2 separate regions of the Homo sapiens genome follow, and region 1 is linked to region 2. Evidence: fine-mapped expression QTL. A gene starts in region 2. The other region holds a variant in brackets. All regions are shown on one strand. Distances are from middle to middle.

The links. PIP is the estimated chance that this variant, and not a neighbour inherited with it, causes the effect.
Region 1: its variant is fine-mapped to the expression of TIGAR in whole blood (INTERVAL, PIP 0.99).

Annotation. Positions count from the first base shown.
Region 1 is chr12:4,347,612-4,362,733 of GRCh38, reverse strand. TIGAR (TP53 induced glycolysis regulatory phosphatase) reads right to left here. Exons shown (of 6, transcript NM_020375.3): 4 at 12,838-12,915; 5 at 11,357-11,467; 6 at 2,706-10,474. The coding sequence ends at 10,043. Among named protein-coding and RNA genes, the nearest start is that of FGF23, 25 kb to the left of the region's middle. The variant T/G (reference allele first, on the strand shown) is at 8,174.
Region 2 is chr12:4,312,723-4,327,844 of GRCh38, reverse strand. TIGAR (TP53 induced glycolysis regulatory phosphatase) reads right to left here and starts at 6,632. Exons shown (of 6, transcript NM_020375.3): 1 at 6,542-6,632. The coding sequence starts at 6,573. It also overlaps the pseudogene RPS15P7. RefSeq lists a silencer at 6,542-6,921 and an enhancer at 6,387-7,040.

The sequences.
Region 1 (15,122 bases), 35 kb before region 2:
GAGGGCCTAAAGAAACAATACCTTAATAGTAACCAGCACACCTAGCTCTCATCTTGGTTTTTAACATCATTCTCTAATAAAAGGAACCACGGTGCCTTGAAGAAATGGCTGGTTCTAGGAATGGGACATGAAATATGCAAGAGGAGCCTAGAGTGTCTAGTACTGACAGAAAGTACACCTGTGTTAAAACAACAGCAACAATAAAAACAAGCCAAGTTGATGGGGGTATTTCAAAGGAACACAAGAGCCAACTGAAAGAGCTCCAAATGGCTGAAGCTGGAGCAATTTGAGAAACAACAATAAAAAGTAGCATGGGATTATAACCCAAAGTATAAAATAACTATTCACAAGAACAAAATGATATAAATAAATGATTGAATAAATACATACATAAATAAGGTAATAAGAAAAAAAATCATCCATGAAGAATTCCAAATAACTTGTAGATACTCCCTCCTCAAAAAGAAGGATCATAAATCCCGACTCCTTGTGTGCACAGTGACTTCCTGACTTTCTTCCACAAGTACCGTATGGAAAGACAGAAAAAAAGAATAGCTTTACAACGGAGAAACCTGACAAACACTACTTTAGCCAAGTGATCAAGGTCAACATCAACAATCAAATGAAACAAGTCGTATTTATATCATCTACACTTGATATGATGTAATGAAAATGGAACTTTACAGGCCAGGCGCGGTGGCTCATGCCTGTAATCTCAGCACTTTGGGAGGCTGAGGCAGGTGGATCACATGAGGTCAGGAGTTCAAGACTAGCCTGACCAACACAGAGAAACCCCATCTCTACTAAAAATACAAAATTAGCCGGGTGGTGGCTCATGCCTGTAATCCCAGCAACTCAGGAGGCTGAAGCAGGAGAATCGCTTGAACCCGAGAGGCAGAAGAGTTGCGGTGAGCCGAGATCGTGCCACTGCACTCCAGCCTGGGCGACAAGAGCAAAACTCTGTCTCAAAAAAAAAAAAAAAAAAAAAAGAAAGAAAGAAAAGAAATAAAATGGAACTTTACTTTTCAATAACCCCAGTCTAATCATGAGAAAAATATCAAACAAATTCCAACAGACAGTCATCCTACAAAACGCCCGACTAGCACTTCTCAAACTCCCAGGGTCATTAAAAAAAAAACAAAGAAAGTCTGAGAAACTGTTACAGGCAAGAGGAGTCTAAGCACAGAAAGGCAAACACTGCATGATCTCGCTCATATGTGGGAGCTAACAAAGTTGATCCAATAGAAGGAGAGAGAACAGTGGTTACCAGGAGCTGGAAAGGGGAGGAGAACACGGACAGGGAGAGGCTGATTCATGGGCTCCAAATTATAGTGAGATAGAAGGAATAAGTTCTAGTGTTCTCTTGCACTGTATGGTGACTATGGTTAGCAATACTTCATTGCACATTTTCAAATAGCTAGAAAAGAGGATTTTGAATGTTCCCAACACAAAGAAATGAGCAACGTTTGAGGTGATGGATATGCCAATTACCCTAATTTGATCATTACATGTTGTATACATTTATCAAAACATCACTCTATACCCCATAAATATGTACAATTATGTGTCAATTTTTTAAAAAAGCAAGGGTAGTTGCACAACAGTGTGAATGGACTTAATGCCACGGAATTGTCTACTTAAAAATAGTTGATTTGGTAAATGCTGCTATGTATACTTTCCACATTAAAAAAGCAAGGGTAATGAAATGTATACACACACACACACACACAAGGAACCTAAGAAGACATGACAAGTAAGCATAATGTGGTATCCTGGATGGGATTCTGGAATAGAAACATGCCATTAGGTGAAAACTAAGGAAATCTGAATAAACTATGGGCTTTGGTTAATAATGTGTCAGTATCAATTCATTAACATAAGATGTTAATAACAGAGGACACTGGATGCAGGTGTATGGGAATTCTACATATTGTCTCAATTTTTCTATAAATCTAAAAACTGCTCTAAAAAGTATATTTTTAAAAAATTTATGTGGAAATACAAAGGACCTGCAATGAGCCAAAACAACAACCACCACCCTGAAAAAGAACAAGTACATAGGTGACTTATACACTGATTTCAAGACTTGCTATGAATGTAGAATAATCAGGACAGTGTGATATTTGCATATGGATAGACAAAAAGATAAATGGAATTAAATAAGGAGCCCAGCAATACACCAACACTTACACAATAAGTTGAATTATGACAAAAGAACCAAATAAATTCAAGGGAAAAGAAAAGTCTTTTCAACAAATGCTGCTAGAACAATTTGATATCCAGGTAAATAACCATAAGCCTGAACCTGCTACCTCATACCACACACAAAAATTCCAGATGGATCAAGACCTAAATATAAAACTTATAAATCACAAATCTTCTAGAAGAAAACAGAGTCTCCATGACCAGGGGATAGACAAAAATTTCTTTGACAAAAAAAAAGCAATAATCATAAAACAAACACAATGGTAAATCAGTCTTATGAAAATCAACAACTTAAAAAAATTGATAAATGGTAGAATAACATATTTTATAATAAATATACAGACTGGAATAAAATTATATATATGTAGATACATGTGTATATATACACACACACACACACACATACACACATACATACACACACACACATCTGACAAAGAACTTGTATACCCAAAACATATAAAGAACTCCTACAACTCAAAAATAAAAAGATGACACAATTTTTTAATGGATAAGATTTTAATACACATTTCACAAAGAAAGCTGTATGAATGATCAATAAGAATTGTACATTAAAAAGCATTCCATATCACCAGTTAAAATTGCAGGGATATACTACCATACAACAATCAGAATGGCTAAAATTTTAGAAACTGATAATAACAAATGTTGGCAAGGATGTGAAGCACCTAGAACTCATTGTTGATAAGCATGAAATGGTACAACCACCATGGAAAAAGATCTGGCAAGTGTCTTATAAAACTAAACATACACCAACATATAACCTATAACTCAGCAATTCCACTCCCAGATTATTTACCCAAGAGAAATGAAAACATACGTCCGCAAAAAGACTTGTAAAAATATTTATAGCAGCTTTATTCATAATAGCTCCAAACTAGAAATGGTCCTTGTGTTCCGTCAATGGAAGAATAAACAAACTGTTGTGTATCTATGCATTGGAATTCAATGCAGTAATTTTTTTAAAGGCACTATTAGCAATGAGCACCCTGGCACCGAGATCTTGGTTTCTAAATACCATGCACACCAGGCGTCTTTCATTTCATTTCCAAAGAACCAGGGCTCTTTAGAGAAAAAGCTGATTCTGGGGCTGGGGCTCGGGAAGAATGAGTCTGGAGCATATTGTTAATACCAGAAAGAAAGTACTTAAAGAAGGATGAGATTATGTCACCAGAACATAAGAGCCAGCCTGAAAGGGTTCCCACAGGACAAAGTTGGGACTGTGTAACCATAAAATAATAAGAGTACTGTATTATAAGCCCCTGAATAAGAACTTCTGAGCTCATACTGACATAAATAAGTAGGCAAGAAGGGTAAAGCTGTCTTAGTACAGAATGCCAACTAATAAACATAGAAGCAAAAGTAGAGTCATGGCGTGAGTTGGCTAAAGAAAAAAAAAACAGAGTCAGAAAATAAACAATAAAGGCTAAAAGAGTAGTTGCAAATTTAATGAGGAACCAGACATATTGATACAACGTCCTGTCCCTCCTGACATGACCAAGGACACATCCTTTCTGGGCTGCTTCTGACAAAAGTATACAATCCAAATCTAATAATGAGGATATGTCAGGAAAAAAAACCACAAGAACTCACCTATTTTTTAAAAAGTAACAAGATCAAGAAAGACAAAGTTCATCTGGTTAGATAGATGGTGGGAGAAAAAAAGAAGGGCAAAGGAAGGCAAAGGAGTAGACGGAAGGACATGAAGAAACATGACAACTAAATGCAACACAACACACAGTCCTGGATTGATTGGATTCTTGATTCAGAAAAAAAAAAAAAGCCACAGGTACATCAACAAAATAATTGACAGAATTTAAATTTGGTCTAAGGATTAGCTAATAGGCAATATCAATGTCAAATTTCCTGACTCAGATATTTATTCTGGGTTATATATAAGAACATTGTTGATCTCAGGAAACACACATTGAAATTTTATAGGGGAAGAGTATGAGGACTCAAAGTTACTCTCCAATGTTTCAGGGGAAAACAGAGGGAGAGAGAAAAAATGGCAAAGCAAGTGGGACAACAGGTAAGCAAGTGGTGAATAAGTGTGAAGAGTATACAGCCATTCCTTCTACTGTTCTTGCAACTTTTCTGTAGGTTTGATAAATCCAAGATAAAAGATTACCAAAACACACGCACATACACATTACTGTAATTATTCTCTATGAGGATACAGTAGCTCAGTGATTTTTCTTTTTCTTTTTTTTTTTTTTTGGAGACGCCCAGCTAATTTTTGTATTTTTAGTAAAGACAGGGTTTCACCATGTTGGCCAGGCTGGTCTTGAACTCCTGACCTCAGGTAATCCACCCACCTTGGCCTCCCAAAGTGCTGGGATTACAGGCCTGAGTCACCATGCACAGCCCATTATTTATCAAATGATTTTTTTTTTTTTTTTTTGAGACCCAGTCTTGCTCTGTCACCCAGGCTGCAGTGCAGTGGCGCGACCTTGGCTCACTGCAAGCTCCACCTCCCGGGTTCACGCCATTCTACTGCCTCAGCCTCCCAAGTAGCTGGGACTACAGGCGCCGGCCACCAGGCCTGGCTAATTTTTTCTATTTTTCAGTGGAGACGAGGTTTCACTGTGTTAGCCAGGATGGTCTCTATCTCCTGACCTCGTGATCTGCCCGCCTTGGCCTCCCAAAGTGCTGGGATTACAGGTGCGAGCCACCACGCCCAGCCACCTCAGCGATTGCTTGGTCACAAAATTACTAAGAACCAGGCCTTGAACCTGAATCCAGGCCTTCTGACAATAGATCTTTCCAGTGTCCCTGCCCTGTCACTTATCAATGAAGAAATCACCCCCTTAGGCCATATTGCTGAACAATGAACCAAGTGATTGAGAACTGTGGGGGGAAATCCTAAAGTTTTTAAAGCACTGGTAGTTACCTGTCATGACGACCTACTTAGCCATCTTGTTTGGACACAAAGGAACTGACACATACTTCAATCTGAAAGCTGTACTTCCAAATTGATGGGGCCCAAAGAAAGAGGGGTAAAAAGCAACATTTACATGAAACAAGGATGTTTTCTAGGAGCCCCATTCAATTTCCAAACTGGTAAGTGCTGCGTCTGATAGCAGGTACTCAGCCCAGCACCACCGCTCTACTGAATACTTCTTTCCTTTGCATCTCCTGTGTCTGTGCTTAACAGGGCTGATAATTATGCCAGGTGGATTCACCTAGGATGATCTATTTCAATTAAATTGTGACTGACCTTAATATAGTGAAGACATATAATAGAACCATTTAACTTACACGAATTCATCTACTTGTAAATGTAATATGCATGCAAGTATACATAATATAAGCATATGTACTTAAGTGATATGGCCAAATATTGCACTTCCTGCATAAGCCTAAGCCATGGAATGGGTGTGAGATGCACTGTTCTCTCAGGGATATCTTACTTTATGTGCTTCCCCTAATATGAGCATGTCCTTGCTGAGTATGACATAGCATTTAAAGAAATTAGAATAAAGATGCTAACTAAAACAGGTTTTTAGTTAAAAAGCAATAAAGGAGAATCCTCATCCAAAAATGGAAATGAATAGTAGGTGAGTGAGGAGTGGGAAGGACAGGAAAATAAGAGACAGGTGAATGGGAGCCATGGTTTCGACTCCAGGTGCAAGGGAGCCTAAGCGACAGGCTCTGCTTGAAGCTGCGAGCCTGGGGTGAAGCCTGGAACTGGAAACTTCTGCCCATTCCCTCTGCTAGGCCTCGGACTAAACCTAACAGAAACAGGCAAGACAAGGTGGGAAAGATGAGTACAGGGAACACAGAGGACTTTTAGGGCAGTGAAAATACTCTGCATGATACTATAATGGTGGAATACATGTCTTCATACGTTTGTCCAAACCCACAGATCATGCAACACCAAGAATGAACCCTAATGTAAACTATGGGTTTCAGGTGATGTGGATATGTCAGTGTAATGTGGGCTCACCGATGGTAACAGATGCACTGGTCTGGTGGGGGATGTTGATAGTAGGAGAAGCAATGCGTGTGTAGGGGCAGGGGATAGATGGGAAATCTCTCTACCTTCCTCTCACTTTTGCTGGGAAATTAAAGTTTCTCTTAAAAAATTAAGTCTCTTAAAAAATTCATTTGTTAAAAAACAATCAAAAACCGGGAAAATATTACAAATAAAATATCATTGCATAAAAGACTCAGGCAAAATGAGAGATCTATGACATTCACAGATGGGAGGATGAGAAATCCTAAGCTAACCTAGAAATTCAATGTCCAGGCTCCTTAGTTAGCCATTGGAGGCACTCTGGCCTGGTCCCTGCCAACATCCCTGGCCTTGCTTCTTCAAATGGCCCAACAGCCAGTGCTGCCATCTTCCCTGCCTCCAACCTTGTGCTCCTATAGCACCCCCTACAGCCTGCTCTCCACATTGCAAGCAGGATGGTCCTGCTGAAACAAGTCTGATCACATCACTGCCCAAACTGGCCAATGGCATCTCATCTCACTTGAGTAAAAGCCCAAGGCCTCAGCACAGGCCACCAGGCCATGTGGCCTGTCCTCTTCTCCCGTCACTCTCCCATCCCCCTTGCTCAAAGGAGTCAAGCCTGATCCTTCCTCATGGCCTCTGCACTCTACTCCTTCCATGCTGCTCCTCTCCCCAGAGCAGCAGATCTTACATCCTTCAGTGCTGACACCATCGAGTCCTCCCTGCCCATCCTGGATAAAGCAGCATTCCTCCCACCAGTCTCCATCCCCCTTACTCTGACCTATTTTGCTCAACAGCACTGACCACAATGTGAGCCAACACACTGTCTTCTCTGACAGAACAAATGTTCCACAAGGACAGAGACTTTGTTTTGGTTCATGGCTACATATTCACAGCTTTATCATAGTTGTAGTAGTTCTTAAAATAGCCTGGCATGTGTGTGCCATGCTCAAAAAATACGTATTGAATAGATGAAGAGATGCATGTGACTCCAATAAAATTTGTAACAGAATTTTTCTGGAAATTGACCAATTGATTCCAAAATTTATATGGAAGAATAAAAGTGCATAAATAGTTAAGACAACTTTAAAAATGAACAAGAGGAGGTATCCACCCTTTAAGACAGTCAGCTGCAAAGCCACAGTAACTAAGTATGACACTGATAAGGAAATACACAGATAACTAAAAGAGTCCACAGACTCTAGCAAATGAGGGGGTGTGAGGCCTGAGAGCACACACCACAAACCAATTGGGAAAGAACAGCCTTTACAATGGTGTTGGGATAACTGTTTCAACCACATGAAAAAAAAAATTAAATTCTTACCTTATACTATAAAAAGCAAATTTCAATTTCAAGATTTGACATTCAGAAGTTCTCAAAAACTGTAAGAAGACATTACTGTATGACCTCATGGTAGAGAAGTCTTCTTAAAGATACACACCAAAAAAACCCCATAAAGGATAAGGTATATTGGTTTGTCTTAAAAATTAAGAACACATATTAAAAAAATGCATCATAGGCCAGGCACGGTGGCTTATGCCTGCAATCCCAGCACTTTGGAAGGCCAAGGCAGGTGGATCACCTGAGGTCAGAAGTTCAAGACCAGCCTGGCCAACATGGCGAAACCCCGTCTCTACTAAAAAAAAAAAAAAGGCCAGGCGTGGTGGTGCATGCCTGTAGTCCCAGCTACTCAGGAGGCTGAGGCACAAGAATTGCTTGAACCCGAGAGGTGGAGGTTGCAGTGAGCCAAGATCACGCCATTGCACCCCAGCCTGGGCAACAGAGAGAGACTCTGTCTCCAAAAAAAAAAAAAAAGAAAAAAAGCAAAGAAAATAAAAACTGAATATACCTAAATGCCCACTAATAAACAAAAATGTGCTATATTTAATAGAATAGAGTGGTTATAATTAACTAGATCTATATATATCAACACAGAGATGCCTCCAAGACATAAGTAAAAATAAAGAACACAGATGGCTTGATATTTA[T/G]TTTTAAAGCACCAAAACAGTACCATCTCCTTCCAGACACTAGGTGAAAATATAAGGAACAGATGAACATTGCAAGCAGATGAACAGGTGAACATATACACAGACTCACTGCAGTGGCTGCCTCTGGAGGGAACAGGACTGTGAGAGCTGGTTAAAGAGAACTCTACTTTTATCTTTATGTTTTGTTTCTTTAAAAAAAAAAGTGGAAAGATGACTTCAGTATGGTGGGAATGGAGATAATTATTGTCTGTCCTTTTTGCTTATTTTTCAAATTTTTATTTACAGTATACTTCCTCTGATGCTCAAACACGTGCCCTGTTTCAATACTGGTAGAAAACTGGTAGTGCTAGACACACTAAGAACAATATAATACTGAATTTTACATATGATTTAAAATGATGTCAAAGTAAATTTTGACTATATGTGACTATAGCCTTAACTGACAACTTTAGTATTAACCCTCTTTAAAGTTGAGACTCACAGCATTTAGCAACATGGTGACTTAAAAGCGAACTACATGTAGAACAGTTTCTTCATTTAGATAAAGATTTCTGAAAGACCAATCTTGTGTATAAAATTAAGTTAATCAAAATCCCTTTTCTCCAGTGCCATCTGGTGGAAAGAAGAGGCAACCTCACCTGTACCTGCCACAAAATAACCACAGCTGTGGTTATCAGAGCAACATTCTCTCCCCCCCAACCACCCCGCCTTCCCTGCCCGCAGAGCACCCTCTGTCATCCCCTCTGTCACCTAGGCTGGAGTGAAGTGGTGCGATCTCGGCTCACTGCAACCTCCACCTCCCGGGTTCAAGCGATTCTCCTGCCTCAACCTCCCAAGTAGCTGGGATTACAGGCGCCTGCTACCACGCCTGGCTTTTTTGTATTTGTAGTAGAGACAGGGTTTCACCATTGTTGGCCAGGCTGGTCTAGAATTCCTGACCTTGTGATCCGCCCGCCTCAGCCTCCCAAAGTGCTGGGATTACAGGTGTGAGCCACTGGGCCCGGCCCAGAGCACCATTCTTTACAAAGAAGGCCCCTCTTTTATTCTGATTACTGTGTGGTGTTCTGTTAACTGTTTACTTTCTTTAGAGCCTTCCTCAAACTGGAAATTCTTCAGCCTACAGGTTAGATAAGAAGCAAGTGGATATTCTTCATTTTTTTGGCTTTCCTGGTTTCCATTGACTTGACTTTGGCAAGGCATTATTTAGAAAAGGCTGTTCTTCTATCTTCTGCTCCAAGATTCTTTCTTTACTGTATTTAAATCAAATGTTTTAACTTCTTCCCCCAGACCATTCTGCAATCATAATCTGTATTCATCCACATTTCAAGCCCTCTAGAATAAAAAATTCCAATAGTTGATTTATACGTAAAACATGTTAGTGTTATTTTGCTTTACATAAACTTATAAGGATTTTTTATTTAAAGGATTTAAAAATATAACACAGTCAATATAAACATGTACTGGGAATTATAAACCATTCTTTCTTCTAAGCACTGGATGAGATACTAAAAACATACAGTATCTTACCAATAGCCATTAAAATAGGCTAAAATGAAAAAGAAACCGTTGTAACAAGGTTACTAATCCCCCAACTTTCAATGCTGAGTTCCTTCATCATCCATGTGCAATCCAGAGATGACATCTAGCAGGGTGGTAAAATTATTCTGGAAAATGCCAACTGTACTTGGACAAAATAAGTTAATTCTATATGGTTGTCCATTAAAGTTTTATGTGGCTATGGTTCCACTGGAGCTAAAAATTGGCTTTTAACTGTTTCCAAATCAGAACTAGCAGAGGAGAGAAGTAAATAAAGCCAATGGCACTCCCTTCAGAGGCTCAAAATGGTTAGATTTTGATGCAGATTTAACCTTAGCGAGTTTCAGTCAGTCCATTTAGATGATCCTGTAGGTTCATACAAATACACTGAACCGTTGGTTTAACTTCTCTTCCTTCCTCAAAGTTTATGATAAAGAGACTCATCCCTGTATTGGGAGTGACTGACATAAGTTCAGATCTGCTCAGAGTGGCTGGTAAGGAACACTTAAGGTCAGTCAGAAAATAATCAAACAGACTTCTCATGTAAGCACCGTGACTCACAACTAAGACACTGGCTGCTAATCCTGGAATACCGCTGTCTGAATTAACTTTAGAGCTGTGATTTTTTCCTAAAGGAAATATCTCTGCCAAAGAAGTTTCCAGACAGTTGCTTGGAGATCCTTGGGAAAACTGTTCTTTTTGATCCGCTTCTTTCAGGATTAGTTGACAAAGAAATTCAAAAAAGTCTATTCCACGCATTTTCACCTACAAGAAAAGAAATAAAAGTCAAAATAAAGTGACATTAATGACTTCCTTAAAACGTTAACATAGAACATAACTGACTGGATTTTTTTCTAATATTGAATGCCAAGTACTACACAAGCAGAAGAATATCAATCTACATTTCTATTCGTTCAATCAGTAGTTTCATGGACATATATAAGTATCCACCACATTTCTGGAATTACAAAAGCACCATGGAGACCAAGATGAAGAAGATCCAATTCCCAATTCCTGAGTTCAAAGCACTCACGGTCTAGTTAGGGAAATCTACAAGCCAACAGAAACTCATAAAACAGTGCTAACCAGGAAGCTGTCTCTGGCACTTCAGTGCCACTGGAACAACAGCAGCAACAAATCCTTCCCTTACTAAAGTAATGGAAAGTATTTTCAAGAAAATTAAGATAAAGATTAAGGAGGTGGTGGTGGGTTAGGGGGAATCACCAATATGCAATTCGAAGCAGAACACTCCAAAGAAATGCAAGCACAGGGATGCCACCATGAACAGAGCTGAGGAGGCAGCAGAGGCTTGAAGACTTCATGTTTTGAGTTATTTCACCTCGAGTGACTTGCCGATCACCCTCTTTGAACTCCACTCCCACCACTAAGCCACTGCTTCATATTCAAAGGTCTTTTTTAGAAGTACCATCTAATAACACCTTTCCTTAAGTCCATTATCAATAATGACAAAGGCAACTGAACAGTAAATAAGATTTTAAATAGAAAAGAATAATTTGCTAAGTAAATAGATAATTTAAAATGGAAAAGAGAATGAACCAAGCAACTTTCAAACTGCTTAGCTAAAATTCCAAAACATCTAATTTTGAGTCTTAATTCAACCATTCTGACATCGGCAGCGCCACATACCTGGTCCAGCGTCTCTCCTCCGGGCGGTGTAAACACAGGGCACTCTTCCCTGGCTGCTTTGGCCATGGCCCTCAGCTCACTTAGCGCTTTGCCTTCTACAACCCCGTATTTCTGAAACAGTCCAATAGATAACAGTTTCTCAAATGAAATTGCAATATAACAATTAAGTTTATGTTTATGGCAAATTTAGAACATTCATCCCAGGAATAAGCTAACTCTCCTCCACTTAATTGATTCTATCTCCTCTGAACTGATAATGAGAATGTACTCAGTAGAGGGCCATGAACCTTAGAAAATATAATTGAAATCTTAAGTTGTACACTATGTCCAAATGGGTTATTTTAGAAGAACTTGCTATTGCAAGCAGATGGTGGGAATTTATTGAACAAATACAGAGATTTGCACAGATTATAGGACTAGAGATTAACATGCACAAGGTACCAATTCAGCCATCTCCCATCCACACATACTACACCATTTGATCCCAATGACAGCACCATGAAATAGCTAAATAAATATATCACCATAGTTATAAGGAAGTTGAGTTTCAGAGACGCTAACATGAGAGATCTATTTCTTTTTTTTTCTTTTTTTTTTTTTTGAGACGGAATCTCGCTCTGTCACCCAGGCTGGGGTGCCGTGGCGCGATCTCAGCTCACTGCAACCTCCGCCTCCTGGGTTCAAACGATTCTCTTGCCTCAGCCTCCCGAGTAGCTGGGACTACAGGCGCGTGCCACCACACCCGGCTAATTTTTTGTATTTTTAGTAGAGATGGTGTTTTACCATGTTAGCCAGAATGGTCTCAATCTCCTGAACTCAAGTGATCTGCCCACCTTGGCCTCCCAAAGTGCTGGGATTACAAGCGTAAGCCACCACGCCAGCCACATGGCAACATTGTTAAGCTATTAAATTGGAAAATCACAGAGTCTAATAATACCAATTGTTGGTGTAAAAAAACAAAACTTTCTCCTAGGTCATTCATGGGACTATAAATTGGCACAGGTTTTCTGGAAGGCAACTTGGCAATATGTATATAAATGCCTTTAAAAAAGTACACACTCGCCGATGTCCATTTCTAGAAATATATAGGTCTACAATAAATTAACTACAAAGATGTTTATTTTGACATTATTTACATCAGTGGTAGTCTAGTGAAAATCTAGCTTTCCATCAGCGTAGCTAGGTTACATAAATTATGCAATATCCATATTTTTCACCTTTACTTTAAACTCTTCTATACTGTGTTAAGTTCTTATGAGCGTACCTTCTTTTATACCTTAAGATGCTTGTCTCGTTTGATTTTAATAATAAGATCCTATATACGAGGGTATGTAACAGTGACTGTCATATGGTAGATTCTTAAATATTTTCACTGATTCGAAATCCCTAGCAGAAATGCATTTAACTTTTAGCCAAGTGACAAACTGAGGTGGCTTACTGATAATTTATGGGGAAGAACAATATGTAAATAAGTTACTCACCCTTTCCCGAAGTCTTGAGTCATACTTTACCGTCATATCTTTGCAAAATTTGCTTCTCTCCAAAATTCCATGCATGGTCTGAAAATCAAGACAATTGTTTCTTTCTTTATAAAAATAATCACCATTCTGGTGGAAGCACTGAAAGAATCTATGTCATCTTAGTGAATAAAAAAGAACTAGAACCAGGCACGGTGGCTCACACCTGTAATCCCAGCACTTTGGGAGGCTGAGGCGGGTGGATCATGAGGTCAGGAGATCGAGACCATCCTGGCCAACATGGTGAAACCCTATCTCTACTAAAAATACAAAAAATTAGCCGGATGTGGTGGCACGCACCTGTAGTTCCAGCTACTCGGGAGGCTGAGGCAGAAGAATTGCTTGAACCTGGGAGGCGGAGGTTGCAGTGAGCTGAGATTGCGCCACTGCACTCCAGCCTGGGTGACAGAATGAGACTCCATCTCAAAAAAAAAAAACAAAACTAGAAATGATTTTCCTTTGCAAAAGTTGCCTCTCTGTGTACATCTGTGTACACATCTGTGTCTCTTCATTCCTGATTTTGATATTCTCTTCTAACCTATCTTTTAGTTCAGAAGTCAGCACAATCCAGACCATCATCTGCTTTTGCAAATAAAGTATTTTACTGGGACACAGCCACAGCATTCATTCATGCACAGTTGATGGCTGCTTTCTTGCTATTACCGCAGACTTGAACAGGTGTTAACAGAGACTGTATAGACTATAAACCCTAAAAAAAAATTACTATCTGGCTCTTTACAGAAAATGTTTACTAATCCCCATTCTAATTCCTTAATTCGCCATTCAAATGTGTCTAAATTGTTGTTAAACCCATCCATTGAGCCTTAATTCCAATTGTATTTTTAGTTCTAGAATTTGCATTTGGCTCTTTTTTACAGTTTATTACAGTTCTGTACTGAAATTCTACATCTTTCACCTATACAAAAATATAGTTATTTTAAAGCTCATGTCTGGTAACTCCATCGGGTAAGTCATGTGGCTGTTTCTGTTGTCTTTAGCTCATTTTTATTCACATTTCCTTCTCTCATTGTAAGTCTAGCAATTTTTGATTGACAAGCGACCCTGTCACATAGAAATAATTTAGGTCCATGATCTGCCTTTTTTAAAAACACATTTCCCAACAAATTAGACATCATCATCATACTGTTTTATATGTACTGTCAATATTTCCTTGTATTTTCCTAAACCTTTACCAACTTCTTTGCTCACTATTCTTTTCTGAAACTCAGATCTCCCTTCTGCAATTATTTTCCTTCTTTTTCATTTTTCCTTTCAAAGTTACTTCAGAATCTCTTTGTCTGAAATGTCATTTCACCTACACAGCAGAAAAAAATCTTGCTGGGTATAAAACTCTAGGTTAATCCTTGTTATTTCTCAGCACAATAAAGAAATCATCAATATGAACAAATTTGCTGACAGCCTAACTAATGGTCTTTAATAAAGGATGGTTTTTTCCTCATTCTTTGGAGTCTTGCAATTTTGCTATAATGAATGTAGATATGGGTTTCTTTACTTATCCTGGTTGGGATTTGGTACACTTCTTGGATCTTTCAACAATTCTGTAAATTCTGTAAAATTGTCAATATTCTGTAACCTCTGAATATCACCTCTTCCTCCCATTCTCTCTGCTATCTCTTTCTGAAAGACATTAGAACTTCTCATCATGCTCTTCATGTCTTCTAATGTCTCCTATTTTATTTATTTTTTAAAGGGACTTTTTTTTTTGAGACAGGGTCTCGCTCTGTCACCCAGGCTGGAGTGAAGTGACACAATCACGATTCACTGCAGCCTCAACTACCTGAGCTCAAGTGATCCTCCCACCCCAGCCTCCCAAGTAGCTGGGACTACAGGCAAGTGCCACCACACTCAGCTAACTTTTTTATTTTCTGTAGAGACAAGGTCTCCCTATGTTGCCCAGGCTGGTCTCAAACTCCTGAGCTCAAGTGATCTTCCCGCTTCGGCCTCCCAAAGTGCTGCAATTTCAGGCATCAGCCACTGTGCCCAGCTAAACTCTCATATTTTAAATCTATCATGCCGTGCTACATTTAGGTTATTATCATATATTTATCTATAATGATCACTTCAGCCGTGTGTGATCTATACTTCAGTACTTCCACTGAGGTTTTCATTTTTTGGCTTTTTTCTGTTTGTATTTTAATTTTTAATTTTTGTGGGTATACAGTAAATGTATATATTTATGGGGCACATGAGACACTTTGATACAGCCATGCAATGCATGACAATCACAT
Region 2 (15,122 bases):
AATACAAAAATTAGCTGGGCGTGGTGGTGTGTGCCTGTAGTCCCAGCGACTCGGGAGGCTGAGGCAGAAGAATCGCTTGAACCCAGGAGGCGGAGGCTGCAGTGAGCCGAGATTGCGCCCTCAAAAACAAAACAAAACAAGTAACATCCTCGCTAGACAGTGGCTTGTAGCCCTTAATTTAAACCTGGCCTAAAACTGCCTCCATGCCTAGGGAGCTGTCACCTAACTTAATATGCACACAAACTACAACATAATTTGAGAGTATATTCCTGTAATAAAAACCAAGTCTCAGCCAACCATGCATGGCAGCTGAGCTTTCAGCCAATTATGGGCTGCAAACTGCTCAGACATGTCCTAATAAGGCAAAGCAGAGCTGTATCCAATCAGGCTATCTCTATATGTCACATCCTTTCTTTCTTTTTTTTTTTTTTTTTCTGAGATGGGGTCTCACTCTGCAGCCCAGGCTGGAGTGCAGTGGTGTGATCTCGGCTCACTGCAATCTCCAACTCCAGGATTCAAGCGATTCTCCTGCTTCAGCCTCTCAAATAGCTGGGATTACAGGCAAGCGCCACCACGCTCAGCTAATTTTTGTATGTTTAGTAGAGACATGGTTTCACCATGTTGGCCAGGCTGGTCTCTAACTCCTGACCTAAGGTGATCCTCCTGCCTCGGCCTCCCAAAGTGCTGGGATTATAGGTGCGAGCTACTGCGCCTGGCCATGTCACTTCCTTTCTCTGTCTATAAATACTGCCTGCCTATGTCACTGGGTGAGCACTCTGAAGCTTTACTGGTTCAGGTGCTGCCTGATTTATGATTCATTTCTTTGCTCAAATAAACTAAGTCTAATTTGTCTAAAGTTTTTCTTTTTATAGGTTGCTAACACAATTTCCAGCCAAAGCCAAAGAAGCACCCTCATTTTGAAATGAGGGGTGAGAAGAAATTTAATAATTTGCCAACCAAGAAATCATGCAAGAGCCACCAAAAAAACTCAGAATTTACAAATCACAGAAATTTGGCAGAGATGATTACTTTTTGTATACTTGCTGAAGAGTAACTCAGCATTTTTATTTAATCAAAGTAGATAATGAAAGATTCAAATTAAAATAAAGGTTTACACTGTCAAAATGTCATTTTATAAAAAATGGAATCCCAGAAATTTGATAGTTTCATAAAAGTACTGCCCCACCATCTAACGATTTTCAGTGAAAGCAGCATAACCACTGTGATATAATGAAGGACTCATTTAGCCATATATCAACAGAGGCTGCTGTAGACTCAATAGTATTATTAACAATCACAGCATTCAGTTTAGTTCTATTTGGCATTTTTGCGTTCAAATCACTTTATAAATATTAAAGAGTAGGAATCCAAAAATAGATTTTTTTCCAAAAGCTTTCATAAATATTTAGTTGTACAGCTTTTATCAGCTTTATTAAGAGGTTTATATAAATCCTTGAAGTAACTGTTTAATTAGTACGTTTGGGGAATGGGAAAGGAAACTTGATGGCTAAAACAGTTTTACTATTAATCTATTTCCCTTAACCAAGTCTGACTTGTGATAGCAGCAGAGAAGGTGAACGGAGCTGAAAGGTCAGAGGGATATATTTTGAAGGAGTCAGGAATAACACCACTCATTTTCAAAATCTGCAGTGTGGTCCATTTCCAAAACAGAAACCTGACTCTGCAGGAATCCGAGTGCTTCTGCCAAGATGTTAAGTCTTAGGATCAGCCATTTATAGGCCCTACAAATATACATCATTCATTTTGTAGGTTATCTCACAGTTCTTAAAAGACATTATATCTTGTTAGCCTGGATTTATACGCTGCAGCATTTCTTCAAAAATCATACAGAAACCTCAATTTCCCTTAATTCCATTTAAGGAATTCAAATTCAACACACAATACTCAGCGTGCTACAAAGGAGGAACAAATCATGGGAAAGCTGTTCTTTAGTGTAAATGAAAATGTAAACCCTCACCTGATATCACGAATACAGCTTAGTCCTAATTCCTTTACACTAATACATTCATTTGCAAATATAGAAGATTTCAAGAGCTAGTAACACAAGACTTTTGGTGGTCTTTCTTTTTTTTTTTTTTTTTTGAGACGAGTTTTACTCTTGTTGCCCAGGCTGGAGTGCAACGGCGCAATCTGGGCTCACTGCAACCTCTACCTCCCGGGTTCAAGAGATTCTCCTGCCTCAGCCTCCCGAGTAGCTGGGATTACAGGCGAGTGCCACTACGCCCAGCTAATTTTTTGTATTTTTAGTAGAGACGGGGTTTCACCATGTTGACCAGGCTGGTCTTGAACTCCCGGCCTCAGGTGATCCACCCGCCTCGGCCTCCCAAAGTGCTGGGATTGCAGGACTTTCGGCTGTCTTTGATCTTTATAAAGTATCTGTACAAGGTATCTTTATACTTTTATAGAGCATTAAAATTTTATAAAAGTATTAGCTTTATAAAAATACTAAATTACAGATGAGCTAATAGTATTTTGCTTGCTTTATTAATATACAGAACAATTATTAGCATTACACAAAAAGTAACTGCCAATAAAAGTACAGTAAGAAAAATCAGTTTTGCTATCAGTAACTTTACTAATTCGGCCAGGTGGGGTGGCTCACGCCTGTAATCCCAACACTTTGGGAGGCCGAGGCAGGCGGATCACCAGAGGTCGGGAGTTCGAGACCAGCCTGACCAAAATGGAGAAACCCCATCTCTACTAAAAGTACAAAAGTAGCCAGGCATGGTGGCACATGCCTGTAATCCCAGCTACTCCGGAGGCTGAAGCAGGAGAATCGCTTGAACCCGGGAGGCGGAGGTTGTGGCGAGCGGAGATCATGCCATTGCACTCCAACCTGGGTGACAAGAGTGAAACTCCGTTTCGTCAAAAAAAAAAAAAAGCAAAAACAAAAAAACTTTACTAATTCATTTTTAAATCATTAAAAGTATATTAAATTTAGTTTGCCAAAAAATTTTAAAGCTTTACGAGCTGCCTAAAAATGGAAGTGAACTTTTCTGAGGATCCGACAAGATGGCCGAGGTAGAGCAGAAGAAGCGGACCTTCCGCAAACTCACCTACCGCGGCACAGACTTGGACCAGCTGCGGGACGGGACGTGTCCTGCGAGCAGCTGACGCAGCTGTACAGTGCGTGCCAGCGGCCGCAAGTGAACCCGGGCCTGCGGCGGAAACAGAACTCGCTGCTGAAGCGCCTGCGCAAGGCCAAGAAGGAGGCACCGCCCATGGAGAAGCCGGAAGTGGTGAAGACGCACCTGCGGGACATGATCATCCTGCCCAAGATGGTGGGCAGCATGGTGGGCGTCTACAACGGCAAGACCTTCAACCAGGTGGAGATCAAGCCGGAGATGATCAGTCACTACCTGGGCGAGTTCTCCATCACCTATAAGCTGGTGAAGCACTGCCGGCCCGGCATCGGGGCCACCCACTCCTCCCGCTTCATCCCCCTCAAGTAGTGGCTCAGCTAATAAAGGCACACATATTTCCAAAAAAAAAAAAAAAAAGGAAGTTAAATGGATGGTTTTGCCGGGGACTCACTGCAAACACCTACAACATTCCAAGGAACCAGACCCTTCAGTAGTGCTGGATAGGTGATGGTAATGCCAACCTACACGTGTTGGAGTTTTCAACAATGCTGTGCCATAAGCTCATGAGAAGTTATAGTCTGACAATGATGATAGACTTGAATTCTGGAATCTTGGGCAGTCTGTTCCAGAAATGATACACACTGGTACTTTCATTTCAAAGTATGAAGAAAGATAAACCACATACAGGAACAGCACAAGATTCCTAACAGGTTCTGTTGAACTTAAATTGCTTTAAAGATTTTTTTGCATTATCTGAAGAGGTAAGTCCAATAAAATTATCTAACTCTTCAAAAAGTCATTACATTTAACTATGGTGATAATGAGTCAAATTTAAAAATCACTTCTTTTCCTGAAAGAATCACCAGGTTTTGGTTTTGAGAACTCTGAAGGCAAGAAGCAGGAGGATCCAGACCGGAAAGCATTGAACCAGCCCTCTCACTCCATCTTCCTACACATAAAACAGAACAAAATAAACTATTGTCATAACTCCACACAATTATATTAAGAGACTAAAAAGTAGCCTCAAAAATGGCTGGTGATGTTCAAGTAATCTACAAATACCGGGTTTTAACAAATTAAGTAGGAAACAAAAGACGGTGAGTGGTAAAGTTGCTTTGGTTAAACTCCTACTTCCTCAACTTGCCATGTGACTTTAAGCAAGTTACAAGGCGTCTCTGTCTCAGCTGCCTCATGTGAAAAATGAGGATATCAGTCCTTAACTCACTAAACTGTCAGATTTTAATTACAACAGTGCCTGGCAAATAATCATTTATTAAGACTTATTTTTTAAATGATTCCTATGAGGGCCTCCGGAATCAAACCCTTTTTAAGCAGCAGAAAGGGAATAAAATCCATATTTATATGACTATTGTCTATTAGGAATCTAAATAGGAATCATCTTACTTTTTAGGGGTTGCCTTACCCCAAATATTCTACAACTTCTGAGTTTTCTTTTTTTTCTTTTTGAGACAGGGTCCCACTGTGTCGCTTAGGCTGGGGTGCAGTGGCCCAATCACAGCTCACTACAGCCCTCACTTCCCAGGCTCACATGATCCAAGTGATCTTCCTGCCTCAGCCTCCCTATTAGCTAGGTTCACAGGCATGCACCACCACAGCCAGCTTTTTTTTTTTTTTTTTGTAGAGAGGAGGTTTCACCATGTTGCCCAGGCTGGTCTTGAACTCCTGTGCTCAAGGGATCCACCCACTTCCGCCCCCCAACGTGCTAGGATTACAGGGGTGAACCACCTTGATGGTCTGAGTTTCAATTATAAATATGACACTGGGCTGGCTGGGTCAGGCGTCTAGAAAGTGCACTAACATTGGAAGAAAGGGTGATCAGGCCTCTAGTTCCTGTTCTGCTACCGATTAGCTGTGTGACCTTTAGTAAGTTAAGAATTCTCCCAAGGCATTCTATACAACCGAGAGGGGTGGGAGAAGAGATAGTGAGGAACTAGATTTCTAAGGTAGCCATTAAAATCCTGCTAATCCTAAACAGACAATTTTAGAGGATTCTTAAGATTATCTTTCTTATAAAGGAAGGACAGGCCAGAAAAGATAGCTGTTAAAGTCAATTGACAAAGTTAAATCATATTAATGTCCTTTGTGAGCTCCATGAATGCAGAAATGGTATGTTATTTATCTGTATGATCCAGTCTACTGGCACACATTACCTACTCAAAATGCTGGTGTGCTGAACTATACGTTCGTATTTGGGAATCAACTGCACTTTTATTGGAGCTTTCTTTATAGAAGTTATTTCTCAGATATATTTCTTTCCCTGTTGCATCATACACTTTACCTGTCCCCCATTTAATTCTCGCATTAAAGTAGTGAGATACGCACTATCATTTGCATATCAGGAAACTTAAGTCCAGGCTACCTGGCTCTTAGCTGGAGAACAGACTCCAACCGAGGTCTACCTTGCCTGAAAAATCTGTGCTCTTAGCAGGGCGCGGTGGCTCATGCCTGTAATCCCAACACTTTGCGAGGCCGAGGTAGTCGGATCACTTAAGGTCAGGAGTTCCAGACCTGCCTGACCAACATGGCGAAACCCTGTCTCTACTAAAAATACAAAAATTAGCCGGGCGTGGTGGCGCATGCCTGTAATCCCAGCTACTCGGGAGGCTGAAGCAGGAGAATCGCTTGAACCCCGGAGGCGGGAGGTTGCAGTGAGCAGAGATAGCGCCACTGCACTCCAGCCTGGGTGACAGAGCGAGGCTCCATCTCACAAAAAAAAAAAAATAAAAATAAAAATCTGTGCTCTTAACTACCCTGATTTTCACCTCCCGTTAACACTTGGCAAATACATAAAGACCTATCAGCATGCAGCTCCGTGTAACGTTATGATAATAAAAACATTTATTTGGGATGATACGGTCTGCTGAGATCAGAGCTGTGATCCTCTTTTCTCTCCCAGAACTGTAACCTCTGGGGAAAAGAAAGAAGTCTCATATATGTGCCTGGGGGGCTGACTGCCTGGGGAAACGAGGGGGAACCTCAGAAACTGAGAGGATAGCGGAAGGCAGCCGGCATCAAAAACATCAGCCATGGACGAGCAATTCTGCAAACTCTTTGCAATCTGCTGGGGAGCAAAATCGGTACCCAGACAAGTCTGTGGACATGTCTGGCACCGTTTTTGGTGCAGCCACCAAGTGCCTACGAACCCCGATCCCTTGCTCCTCCGGGCCTCACTTTATCTGAAACACGGAACGAAGCTATCTAAGACCTGCCGTCGTCCCTCGGGGCTGCTGGGGTGAGAGGAGGGGCGACACGGGACGGCCCCAGGGCAAGCGCCCCGGAAAAAGCGCTTCCAAGCCAGCCCTCCCGGGCTGGAGCGAGCAGGGAGGGGAGAGGGTGGTGGACCCGTTTTCCCTTCACCCGCTCCAACACACTCAAGGAAGAGAGAGAGAAAGACATCCTGCCACAGCCATACTCACTGCCGGACAACAGTCAGAGCGAAGCGAGCCATGTTCCCGGAGCCGCGTCCCGTCGGTGGCCCCGCGCCGCGCTGCCCCTGCACTGCGGGCTACCTCCCCCACACCACTTCCGCCAAGCAGCCGGCCGGCTCCGCCGCCATAGGCCGAGGCGGCCTCGCACGTCATCCCCGAAGGCCACTCAGGGCCGGGCGAGGCCGACGGGGCGGGGGAGACGAGGGAGCCACGGGGGCCCCGCCCAGGGCTGCGGCGCTTGCGCCCCTGCGCGCCGGCCTGTGATTGGCGCGCGGCAGGTGCGGGAGGCCCCGCCCGCGGAGTCCGCGGTAGGATTCCTTCCCTCGATAGCCGGCAGCCTGCGTTCGGGGCAGATAAGGAAGCCGGCGCACTGATTTGTGGTTGTTGCGATTGAGGCTGGAATGCAACCGTTCGTCTTATAGCTGGCCACTGTGATGAACCCCTCACGGGTGTACAGCGACCAACAGACTGTGTTCTATGAGGTCTGTTAGTCCCTAACCTTAGGGACGTAGCGTCGGCCAGGTCTGTAGACTTAGACCCACCCACCCCAACTCCGCCGGGACAGACGCCCTCCGTGACCAAACTTTAGTCGGGCTCCTTTGAGGCCTTTTCTATACTAGACGGCATCCTCGGCCTGCTGAGCCTGGTTTTACCAAAGAATCCTGCTAAGCCTGTTTATCAAGAGAGACCTCACTGTTGATGCTCTCTTCTAAGGCCCTTGATATCTAGTAAAGTTCCTCCTCCCCCTCCCCCAGATAGCTTACCACGTTCTGGTAATTTCCCATCTTCTCTTTCATCCCTTCCATCCCGCCCCCTGGCTATAAATCTCCACTGGTCCCGGTTGTATTCTAGAGTCGAATTCAGTCTCTCTCACCTATTGCAGTAGTCTTGAGTAAAGTCTTGCCGTTTTTAACAAGCCTCAGATGAATAATTTCTCTTTAATAGCCTTCAGAACGTTGAGGGAGTTGCTTCATGTTAGATATGAGTTCTAAATTTCTTTTCAAAGAATCAATATGTCAGTATGTTCAATTCTTTGCTTTTTACTTTTAAACTTAACTTCCTCCTAAAGCAACCTTCTCTTTTTTATTTATTTATTTATTTTTTTGAGATGGAGTCTGGCTCTGTCACCCAGGCTGGAGTGCAGTGGTGTGATCTCGGCTCACTGCAAGCTCCGCCTCCCGGGTTCACGCCATTCTGGCTCAGCCTCCCGAGTAGCTGGGACTACAGGCGCCTGCCACCACGCCCGGCTAATTTTTTGTATTTTTAGTAGAGACAGGGTTTCACCGTGTTAGCCAGGATGGTCTCGATCTCCTGACCTCGTGATCCGCCCGCCTCGACCTCCCAAAGTGGTGGGATTACAGGCGTGAGCCACCGCGCCCGGCCACAACCTTTTTCGATTACCTGCTGCACTCTGACTCCTTCCCATTACCTACTCCACCCTGACTCCTTCCCATTACCTACTCCACCCTGACTCCTTCCCATTACCTACGCCACCCTGACTCAGATTACCTGCTCTGTCATAACTGTTTTTCCCGCCAAACCACTCACCCCCATCACTCTCTTTAGATTAGCCAATCGGAATTAGTTTAGCCTGTGCGGTGGGGCACTACACAGCAGCAGGGGCCACGTGCGTCAGGGATAAGAACCCCTTCCCCTCCCTTGTCCAAGTGTGCGCTCACCATTGCTCCATCTGTAAGGACGCACCCTTCTATAGAAGTACCTTGCCTTGCTGAGAATTAAAAAGAAAATTTTATATTCGAGTGCTATTTCTTTTGTGGCACTGAAAGTTTATTTATAACATGAGCTTCTCTAACCCTGGGTTTTGTGACAGGTAAACTGGGATAGCAGTACCTAGCAATGTGACACAAGTAACAATAATGTTAGCTAGGTGACATTGTCTTCCATGCACTGTTACCTAAATTCTTGTATTTCATAATGCATTTATTTCCTTGAATCCCCACTTATATATGAAAAGATGTGTTTAGAGAAGAGATGAATGAGATACTTAGATTCATAGGCACACATTTCAAAACAGTCTTACATGTAATATCACATTTGGCCTTCTGAACAATTCTAAGGTAGACAGGATAGGCTACATTATCTTCACTTTAGAGATGAGAAATATGGCCGGGCATGGTGGCTCACGCCTGTAATCCCAGCACTTTGGGAGGCCAAGGCAGGTCAGGAGAATCTGCAGGTCAGGAGATAGAGACCATTTTGGCTAACACGGTGAAACCCCATCTCTACTAAAAATACAAAAAATTAGCCGGGCATGGTGGCACGTGCCTGTAGTCGCAGCTACTAGGGAGGCTGAGGCAGGAGAATCGTTTGAACCCGGGAGGCAGAGGTTGCAGTGAGCCGAGATTCCAACACTGCACTCCAGCCTGGGTGACAGAGCAAGACCCCATCTCAAAAAAAAAAAAAAAGAAATATGGCCGAGAGAGAGACAGCGATTTGTCTAGGCTCACACAACTGGTCAGCGGTGACACAGAACTAGTTTAGAGGTCCTCAAACCTATCTTTACATTAGAATCGTCTGGAGACCTTTGCCAGGCTACACCCCAGAAAAATCAAATCTGAACTTCTGGGGGAAAGACTCAGGCAGCAGTATCTGTATGCTTTTAATCCCCAGCTGTTTCCAACATACAAGTGGCTGTTCTGAGAGCTAGCAGTTTAAAGCAATGCTTCACAAACTCGAACGTGCACACAAAGCAGTTGGGCATAGTGTTAAAATGTAGATTCTGGAGTTAGTAGATTGGAGTGGGGACCAAATTCAGCATCTCTAACAGCTTGCAGGTCAACAGGAGGCATTTTCAGGATGAGAGTGGAGGGATAATTCAGAGGGCCCTAACAGTGGGGCCCAGATATCGTGTGTGTGTGTGTGTGTGTGTGTGTGTGTGTGTGTGTGTGTGTGTGTGTGTGTCCGTGTCCGTGTTCTGAATGCCCAAATGAATGAATCATCCCAGCAGATTCTCCTGGAAGTTTGAGCTGAAAAAATGAAATTAAGTAGTTATCTGTGAGGGGTGAAGCAGAAAGAAAGCACAGAAAGAAATCATAGGATAGAGTTAGGGCTATGAAGGGGCATGGTGATTGAAGCTGTGAAGAAACAGAAGCCATAAATAATACAAGTGAGAGAACAGAGGAGAGGGTACGAAGAAGCAAAGTCAATGGAAGAAGCAAAGAGACACACAGAGAGACACAGACACAAGTGAGTAATGCAAGGAGTACCCAGTCACTGGTCGCTCAAACTGCCATAGTCCCAGATACCTTGAAAGTTCCGGTTTGTATAGTAAAACCTCTTTCACTTTAAGGTGGTCCAAGTGCATTTCTAACGCCTAAATAAAAACAGCTTCCCATTTTGTCTTATTTAATACACACAGTAACTCTGCAAGGTAGGAGTTATTTCCATTTCACAGATGAAGAATTAAGGCACATACAGGTTAACTAATTTCCCATTTCTTGGGCCAGGCACAGTGGCTCACGCCTGTAATCCCAGCACTTTGGGAGGCCGAGGCGGGCGGATCACTTGAGCTCAGGAGTTGGAGACCAGCCTGGCCAACATGGTGAAACCCCTCCTCCACTAAAACACAAAAAGTAGCCGGGCGTGGTGGTAGGTGCCTGTAATCCCAGCTATTCGGGAGGCTGAGGCAGGGGAATTGCTTGAACCCGGGAGGCAGAGGTTGCAGAGCCAAGATCATGCCACTGCACTCCAGCCTGGGCGACAGAGTGAGACTTCATCTCCAAAAACAAACAAACAAACAAAAACTAATTTCCCATCTCTCAAGATCTCAGAACTGAGTTTGAGACCAGATAAGTATACTCCAGGTTTCAAAACTATAAATCATGAGGGTAACTACTGGCTCTATTTCATTACTTCCTTGGTTCCTAAGAAAATGTTTGGAACACAGTGGAGATTCCATTAAAATCTGTCAAATGAATGAAGAATACCTGTTATGATCAGTTTGTCTAATGAAGCATACATATTTAAAAAAGCTGACATATTGGAGAGGATTATTGTTTTAGGAGAAATTTAGAAAGTTGCAAGGCATCCACCAATGTTATTTCTTTTAATTATCTAAGGAATAAATTAAAAAACAATTCTTCATAAATTTTAAGAATCAGGGGCCAGGCGCGGTGGCTCATGCCTGTAATCCCAGCACTTTGGGAGGCTAAGGCAGGCAGATCACTAGGTCAAGAGATCAAGACCATCCTGGCCAATATGGGCAAACCCCGTCTCTACCAAAAATACAAAAATTAGCTGGGAGTGGTGGTGTGCACCTGTAGTCCCAGCTACTCAGGAGGCTGAGGCAGAAGAATCGCTTGAACCCGGGAGGCAGAGGTTGCAGTGAGCCGAGATCGTGCCACTGCACTTCAGCCTGGCGACAGAGCGAGACCACGGCTACAAAACAAAAAAACAAAAAAAAAAACAGCAACGAAAAACTAATCAGGGGCAAAAACCAGGTTGAAAAATGAGGTGTCTTCAAAATAGTGGACATTGTCCTGCATTATTCACTCAGTGGTTCAGGGATTGCCCTTCCACTTATAAAATGAACAGGGAGTTCACTTAAACTGTATTTCAGATAGAAGCTAGAAACACCCATATATGTATGTATGTGTATATATGTGTGTGTGTGTGTGTGTGTGTATCCATATATATTCAGAGAGAAGCCAGAAATACCCCTATATATATATTTCCAGGTTCTATCTGAATTAGTTTACGTGAACTCCTTGTTCATTTTATAAGCAGGATGTGTGTACATATATGTATATATGTATATACATGTATTTGTGTGTATGTGTGTGTATACGTATATAAATACATATATAAAAAATATGTGTATATATGTTTGTTTTTTTTTTTTGAGACAGGGTTTCACTCCCATTGCCCCAGGCTGGAGTGCAGTGGTGTGCTCTCAGCTCACTACAACCTCTGCCTCCCAGGCTAAAGTGATCCTCCTGCCTCCCGCCTCCCGCCTCCCGGGTTCAAGCAATTCCCCTACCTCAGCCTCCTGAATAGCAATTCCCCTGCCTCAGCCTCCCGAGTAACTGGGACTACAGGCCTGCACCACCATGTCTGGCTAATTTTTGTATTTTTAGTAGAGATAGGGTTTCACCATGTTGGTAAGGCTGTTCTCGAACTCCTAACCTCAAGTGATCTGCTTGCCTCGGCCTCCCAAAGTGCTGGGATTACAGGCATGAACGACCACACCCAGCCATCCACCAATATATTTTGTTGACAGCCTCTCAAATCACATAACGCCTTTTTAAAAAAATGAAAAATGGTGCTTTGTTGAAGCGCATCATATGATGGCATTCTGGATTAGGCCACGTTATGCCGAGGTAACAAATTAACTCTGGAATTTCCATGGCTTCACACACAAGTGTTTGTTTTTCTTTCATGCTATATGTCTGACGTGGATCAGAAAGGGTCTTAAAGCCACATACTCATTCAGGACCTAGGGTTGACAGACATGTTAACTTCAGAAACATAAGAATTCACGATTTTTGAGGCAGGAGATGAGAATAGTTGAGGGTCTTGAACCAGTCCTTAGATGCTTCCTTCATTCATTGTCCAGAGCCACTCACGTGGCCCTACCAAATTGCAGAGGTGATGGGAAACGTGAGGTACACATGAATTGTTGGGGGGTAGACAATCCCATAAACCCTGTGCATGTTGGAGTATTGAGGATTCTGCCCTTGGCTCTCTTCTCTACTCAACTGTGCAGTCAGCTAGATGATCTAATCCAGTGTATAGATCTTAGTTATATCCCCAGCCTGGCCTTTCCCTTGAGCTCCTCATTCGTTTATCTGTTATAGTTGCCTACTCAACATCTACGCTTGGGTCTATAGTTGACATCTCAGGCTAACTTTGTCCACACAGAACCTTCCATTTTTACCCCTAAAAACAGCTGGTCTTCAAGTCTTTCTCATCTCAGTAAATGGTAACACCCTCCACTTGACTGCTCATGAAACCCTTGATTCTTTACCTATCCTAATATTCCCTGTCAAATTCATCATAGATTTCTGTAGGCTCAATAATGCAGTGAGTGCTGGATTTTACTCGTTTTCTTGCTTTTTTTTTTTTTTTTTTTTTTTTTTTTTAAGACAGAGTCTTGCTCCGTCACCCAGGCTGGAGTGCAGTGGCGTGATCTCAGCTCACTGAAACCTCCACCTCCCAGGTTCAAGCGATTCTTCTGCCCCAGGCTCCTGAGTAGCTGGGATTACAGGTACCCGCCACCACGCCCAGCTAATTTTTCTATATTTTTAGTAGAAATGGGGTTTCACCATGTTGGCCAGGCTGGTCTCAAACGCCTGACCTCAGGTGATCTGCCTGCGTCTGCCTCCCAAATCTTGTTTTCAAATAAAGATTAATTACTGTCTTCACCGAAGATGAGCCAAGTGTAAAATGCCTGATCTATTTGGAATGTAGGGTAGGGGAGGAGATTGTGGGTTGGAGCCAGTTCCCCAGGCATTTAAATATTTTCAGCAATGCATTAAGAGTGAAATTAATTACATTGTGACCAAAAGCTGGTTAGCTGGAGTCTGTGAAATTTATATTATTCTTGTTTATCTTTTTTTTATTGAAAGGGTTTTTTTTTTTCCTTAGGGGCTATTCTTGGTAGTAAGACTAAGATAGTTGCAGACTTAAATCTCCAGGACTTCAGAGATTTTCAAGGGTATACATTTTTGAAATTTACAGAGACTTGCTTTGTGGACTAGTCCACAGGCATTTCACAGAAATGTTTCGTGTGTCCTTGTGAAGAATGTGGATTCACTCATTATTGGATACAGAGTTCTATATATACGTCTGAAGCAAGCTTATTTATTGTGTCGTACATATCTTCAATAATAAATAAATGATAAAAGCTATCTATCCAAAACCTTTAAAAAAAGTTTATGGGGTCTATCACCAAATTATGTCCTGAATCCACCACTTCTGGAGTCTCACTGTGTCCCAGGCTGAGCCTTCATCACCTCTCGTCTGGATTACTGTGATAGCCTGTTGGCATAGCTCTGCTGCCTCTACTCTGGTACTCAGCCATTGAAGAGATGTCCCTATTGTGTCACTCCCTTGCTGGAGAATTCTCTATTGAATTCTCATTGCAGTTAGAATGAAGTCCCAACTCCTGCAAGGCCTATGTGGCATGGCCCCTCTTGGCCCTCCAGTTACAATTCTCTCTTCGCTGCCCCTCCTCATCCAGCTCCAGCCGTCAGGGCTTCTCTCTGTTCGTAGACCACGTCATGCTCATTCCTACCTCCGGATCTTTGCATTCTCTGTTCCTTCTGCTCACAGAGCTCTTTCCCAAGATATTTGCATGGCTGCCTCCTTCTCAGCCTTCAGGTATCAACTCAGAAGTCCCACTCTCAAGAGGTCTTCCCTCAAGCAAAGTAGGCTGCCCAGTCACTATCCATCATCCGATTTTATTCTGAAATTATATCATTTATGAACATTTTTGTAGGTTCATTGCTTGTCTTTCTTCAGCAGGATATATATTCCTTGACCGTGGGGACTGGCTTGTTCCCTTCTGTGTCTTCAGCACCTCAAGTAGTACTAGATATATTGTAGGAGCCCAAACAATTCATTAGAATCTATGGTTTTTTTTCTTTTTTTTTTTTTGGTTTGTTTCTTTTTTTTTTTTTTTTTTTTTTTTGAGACGGAGTCTTCTCTGTCACCCAGGCTGGGGTGCAGTGGCGCCATCTCAGCTTACTGCAACCTCCGCCTCCAGGGTTCAAGCAACTCTCCTGCCTCAGCTCCCACATAGCTGGGATTACAGGCATGTGCCACCACGCCCAGCTGATTTTTGTATTTTTAGTAGAGATCGGGTTTCACCATGTTGGCCAGGCTGGTCTCAAACTCCTGACCTAAGGTGATCCTCCTGCCTGGGCCTCCCAAAATGCTGGGATTACAGATGTGAGCCACCGTATCCAGCCCTAGAAATCATGTTCTTACAGAATATTTAATGGTATGATAACATTCCCCTGATAGGAGATTACATGAAAAAAGAGTAGAAAGCCATTCGTTTATGAGCCTGATTTTTAAGAAAAAATACATACATATTTTTAAAAGACAAGAAAAAATGTGTAATTTATGTCAAGAGTTTCTCTAGTTGGTAGTTATCATGTTAAAAATGCTTGTTCTGCTCTATTACTAAAGAATTTATTTCCTGAGACACATGCATACAAATAAGCAAGGTGTCTTTCACAAAGAAAATTATCCAGAGGGTGGGTGATGGAGAACATATAAACTGTTCTATGTGGCTACTCACACATACTAAAGCAAGGCAACTTACTATTTTTACTATGTAATAGAATACAGCTGAGAATTTTTTTTTTAAAAAAAACCTTAGTTGAGGGGTAGTATGTTCCTGGTATTTGTTCTGTTTATTTTTAATTAGGTCACTTTATGATTCTAAGATAAAGCTCTTTAAGACTTACCAGAATAGAGGCAGGGTGCAGTGGCTCATGCCTGTAATCCCGGCACACTTTGGGAGGCCAAGGCGGGCAGATCACTTGAGGTCAGGAGTTTAAGACCAACCTGGCCAACATGGCGAACCCCTGTCTCTACTAAA